Linked DNA regions of Homo sapiens: region 2 is linked to region 1. A link means that fine-mapping ties the variant in region 1 to the expression of a gene that starts in the linked region. Tissue or cell type: tibial artery. Region 1 holds a variant in brackets; the other region holds the start of a gene. All regions are shown on one strand. Distances are from middle to middle.

Region 1 (2,500 bases):
AGCTCACTGCAACCTCCACCTCCCGGGTTCAAGCGATTCTCCTGCCTCAGCCTCCCGAGTAGCTGGAATTACAGGAGTGCACCACCAAGCCTGGCTAATTTTTGTATTATTAGTAGAGATGGAGTTTCACCATGTCAGCCAGGCTGGTCTCAAACTCCTGACCTCAGGTGATCTGCCCGCCTCAGCCTCCCAAAGTGCTGGGATTACAGGCATGAGCCACTGCGCCCGGCCTATATCCGTTTTTAAGATAAATATTTAGTGGTGATGTTCCTTAACATCATTTCTTCTGGTGATGACTTGGTTCTAACAAGTGATGTTAATGTCAATGTCAGGGAAAAGAGTTACAAAGGTGCTGGGAGAAACTAAAAATTGAAAAAAACAACTGGCAGGGCATGATGGCTCACACCTGTAATCCCAGCACTTTGGGAGGCCGAGGTGGGTGGATCACCTGAGGTCAGGAGCTCTACAGCAGCCTGGCCAACATAATGAAACCCCATCTCTACTAAAAATACTAAAATTAGCTGGGCATGGTGGTGGGCGCCTGTAGACCCAGCCATTCAGGAGGCTGACGCAAGCAATTGCTTGAACCTGGGAGGCAGAGGTTGCAGTGAGCCGAGATCGCACCATTACACTCCAGCCTGGGCCACAGGAGCGAAACTCCGTCTCAAAAAAGAAAAACAAACAAACAAACAAATAAACAACCGAAGAGATGCAAACTTCATGTGGGGAAATATATTCATAATATAAAAACATAATATAAAAACACATGCAAAATCACTTGAGTAAGGCATGTCAGGTAGACTTCCACAAAAAGTCAATTACATCATTTGCATAAAACCTATTAGGTATCCACCCAGTAGGCTAAATCTTTTTCACCATACTGAAAGCAAGAAATTTTCTCCTTCCCATTTCCCTTTAATAAACAAGTACTAGAAACACTGAATTACCACTATTTCCCTCCCATGCACAAAGCATAAAGCCAGAACTCCCATAAATACAATAGAGCCGTGTAGGGCCATGTCTAGGGCATGCTACTGAGTGATCTAAAAAACCACAGTTACAGAAGAATCTCTTTCTCTATTCTATTACCATCTTACTAACAAATCAACAAGCATTAAGAAATGTGAAACAAAGTGCAATTTCACACATACAAACTGAATCTAACCCACGGAAGACCAAGTATTTTCTTGTCACTGTGGCATGTGATTCTTCAACCACCTGCTCAGTAATCCCTCTTCAGCTACACAGCTGCTGCCAATTCCACATGCCCAGCTAGGCAGGTGCTTTGGTGAATTACCTGTTCCCTAGCGAAAAGAGTCCTTCACTGACACTTAGTGGACCCAGAACCTGCCAATCAACATCACCTATCTTCATTTT[G/TG]TCTGTCACAGACAACTTTTATAACAGAGGTATCATGAAGGCATATTTAATACATTACGATATTTTGCATTTTGTGGGGTTTTTGTTTGTTTTCTTTAAAGGAAACTGATTTTGAAAAATCAAGTAGAAGAGAGAATTAAGAGACTGAAAAGAAAACTTCCCACACAATATAAGGCTGCCTCATCTCAGGCTAATCCCATCTGCCTGGCAGTATTCCCATCCATGACCAGTTTTCCATGAGGGAAATAACAATTGCTTAGCTACCTTCAGAGTAGGAGAAAAGGGCAGTACAAGTACTAAGGTACCTGGAAAAGAAGTAACTACAAAGAGGAAGCAGAGTGGGAACTTCTGGAGAACACATATCATTGCTATACTTAGCCTCCATGGCTAAGCTCAGGCAATAGTGTTCTGAGTCAAATAAATAAAATAAATAAGGAGTGGCACTTCCACTTGACAGAGCAATCAGTAAACCCCTCAACAAATTATCGTGTTCCAGTCATTTAGTTGCTATATGCTAATTGCAACATAATTGCTACCAGGAGCCAAAATTATGCCTCCATATCCTCACAAAATAAGCACTAATCTGTCCAACTTTCTAGACTTCTATCACAAGGAAATTTTTTTCTACCAAGAAGCTGGGACGGGTAGTTGGGGGGGAATCCAAAGCACTCTTTGAATGATGGTCACAATCAGAAGACTCACATGAGATTCCTTGTGGCAAGGGCCCAACTCTGAAGCCACTAAATCTAATCAGGACAAATTTAATCTGAGGCTTCTGCCTTCACTGTCACCTGACAGCATTCAGAAATAAATGCCAAGAGCCCAAGAGCAAAAAGCTTTGGACTCAGTTTAGCTGAGGCTTCACTCAAATATTCCTAGGACACAGAGTTGGAAATAGTCTAAAGACAGACAACACCTCCAGTAAGGCCTGAAGACAGTTCTGTTATCAAAAAATATATAAAGGTCAGAACAACCTGTTCCCTCCTATCAAAGGCCCAACACCTCAGTGGCAGGCCATCATTTAAAGAAACTCACTGAAATAAAAGGATAAGGGAGGCACCATAGACAGACTAATTGCCTCAGAAAGACCTTTACCAAAACCAAAGGCTAAAGTTCTTATTCA
Region 2 (2,626 bases), 77 kb after region 1:
AGGAACACTTTCAGTTCTTCGATCAAGTCCCATTTTTGTAGTTTTCTCCCCTGCCTGAACACTTTGGACCGCCACCTCTGTCTATTCCTTAGTTCTCGGGTGAAAGTTATCCTTTCCAATAAACCTTCCGAGTTTTTCAAATCTTAATGAGAATCCTTTATTTTGTGCTCCAACAAGCCCCTTCATTTCCCCAACCTCAGCACTCATCAACGAAGGGGAACCCAACTGTCTTGTCTTTGTTACCCCAGCACCTGGCGTGTAACAGCAGCGCAACAAATGTTCTTCAATCAGTTGAAAGTAGATATTAAGTCATGTACACCATCTCCATTTCATAGGAGTCATAAAGCATGATAAGCTCTACTAATGATTAATCTTATAAATGAAGAAACCAGGGTACAGAGAGAAAAATTAAGTTGTCCTGGGTTCTAAAACAGGTAAACGACAACAGAATATAGAACCTGAGACTCCAGAGTCAGAAGCTATTTGTACTCTACCACGCTGCTTCCACTTAAATTCTAGGTCCTATTGACACAGCTGACCCTGTTGGCTCTACTGACACAACTCAGATTGGGCCGACTAAAATGTTCAGAGTATATCTGGGTGCGGTGGCTCATGCCTGTAATCCCAGCACTTTGGGAGGTCGAGGCGGGCGGATCACTTGAGATCAGGAGCTGGAGACTAGCCTGGCCAACATGGTGAAACACTGACTCTACTAAAAATTTTTAAAAATTAGCCGGGTGTGGTGGTGCGTGCCTGTAATCCCAGCTACTTGGGAGGCTCAGGCAGGTGAATCACCTGAACCCGGAAGGCGGAGGTTGCAGTGAGCCAAGATCGCGCCACCGCACGCCAGCCTGGGCGACAGAGACTCCGTCTCAATAATAACAACAATAATAATAAATAAATAAAAGAGTAAGGGGTTCAAAGTTAGGAAATACAGTTTGACCTGCCCCTTCTCTCTAGAAAGGAAACTGGCTCCTGGGACAGCCTTGCATTTCTAATTATTACAGATTGGGCGTCTTCCCAGGAAAAAAGCCCGACCGGCAGACTGTGGAGCCGGACACCCTATTCCAGAAACTAAACTACAAAGGTGGAGGCCAAAATTCGACGCCTACAGACTACAGACTGCAGCCCCTTTATCACATTTCTCTCTTAACTTTTCAGTCCTCCCCGCTTCCCGGTTCGCTCAGGCAGTGCACATCCCAGAGCTCCTTCCCCGCTTGGACCCGAACTGTTCTCACTGAATGATCTCCTCGCTGACATCCAGGCCGAAAGTCTTCCGCAACTGCTGGGTGCACCAGTGCACCAGCGGCTCCCCGGACACCGCCCCAGCCACCGCCATCTTCCCCAGCCGGAACCAGCTGAGCTGCAAAAGCCCCACGTCCTGCACCGGACTAGTTCCCTTCGCAACACCAACCTCTCTCACGCGGGTTCCGCCAGCTTGCACCGCCCCGCAAGGTCGCACCGCCTCCAGTGCAGATCCCGCCCATCTGTGCGCCTCCTGCTTCTTCCTGCTTTGTTGTCTACTTCCTTGTGCCCTCCGGAGTCGAGCTCTGTCAGTGCATGATTCTTGCCAATCGCTAAACGTAGGACTCGAGGAAGGCCATTGGCAATTCTGCTAAGAAGACAGTGCAAGTGCCTATAAAAACGACAGTTTAGGGGGAAAACAAACCAATACCCGGAAAGCTGAGAGGCCAGCTTTTTAATCGTCATGGTTTTATGTAAAATAAAACAGCACGTGGAAGGTATTGTAAGCGCTGTAAGTTTTTGCTCTGGTGGTGGTTTTAATTTTTTAATTAATTAATTAATTTATTTATTTATTTTGAGACGGAGTCTCGCACTGTCGCCCAGGCTTGAGTGCAGTGGCATGATCTCGGCTCACTGCAAGCTCCGCCTCCCGGGTTCATGCCATTCTCCTGCCTCAGCCTCCCAAGTAGCTGGGACTACAGGCACCCGCCACCACGCCCGGCTAATTTTTTTTGTATTTTTAGTAGCGACGCGGTTTCACGTGTTAACCGGGATGGAGTGTTTATTTTTAATACCCCCTGTAGTCGACTACTAGATTCACACCGCTAAAACTTCTATTTTATTTTTTGAGCCATGTATTTTCCAGGAGAGCCAAGACAACTCAGCAAGCTCGAGGGTAAAAAACAGTAAAACAGGAGTTGGAATTTGGCTTTGAGGACTTTCCACATGAGTTCTCAACCAAAAATGACAGTATTTAAGGGCTGTCTGCAATTCCCTACCCCGCTAAGACAATGGGCTGGGGAAAATTTAGCCAAACTTTTCTGGAGATCATAATGTCTTCCCATTCATTTCTGGCTTTTTGTTGCATTTGCAGGTTAAAAGTTCTTCATTTCTACTAGCCTGTTTAGACTAAGTGGTCACATTAAATTGGCAGCTGTTTTACCTTTTTGCTAGTGTTTTCATTGGCATAAATATTATAATTAAAATCATGAGTGTATTGGCCGGGCGCAGTGTCTCATGCCTGTAATCCCAGCGCTTTGGGAGGCCGAGGCGGGAGGATCACCCGAGCGCACACGGAGACACACACACAAACACACACACACACACACACACACACACTGGGCGTGGTGGCTCATGCCTGTAATGCCAGCACTTTGGGAAT

Direction of the effects. Positions count from the first base shown, and alleles are read on the strand shown. Sizes are in standard deviations (SD) of each study's normalised expression.
As copies of G replace TG in region 1, the expression in tibial artery of the gene that starts at base 1,367 in region 2 goes up (large effect, 0.78 SD a copy in GTEx).

The links. PIP is the estimated chance that this variant, and not a neighbour inherited with it, causes the effect.
Region 2: TRIP4 starts here. The variant in region 1 is fine-mapped to the expression of TRIP4 in tibial artery (GTEx, PIP above 0.99). The same link has a PIP of 0.9 or more in tibial nerve.

The regions. Positions count from the first base shown.
Region 1 is chr15:64,463,565-64,466,064 of GRCh38, reverse strand. All of the region lies in intron 1 of ZNF609 (zinc finger protein 609), which reads right to left. Among named protein-coding and RNA genes, the nearest start is that of ZNF609, 4.2 kb to the right of the region's middle. RefSeq lists an enhancer at 1,188-1,237. The variant G/TG (reference allele first, on the strand shown) is at 1,378.
Region 2 is chr15:64,386,577-64,389,202 of GRCh38, reverse strand. It overlaps TRIP4 (thyroid hormone receptor interactor 4), which reads right to left and starts at 1,367. Exons shown (of 13, transcript NM_016213.5): 1 at 1,239-1,367. The coding sequence starts at 1,339. It also overlaps a transcript of PCLAF not described here. RefSeq lists enhancers at 651-1,151, 1,081-1,570, 1,152-1,652.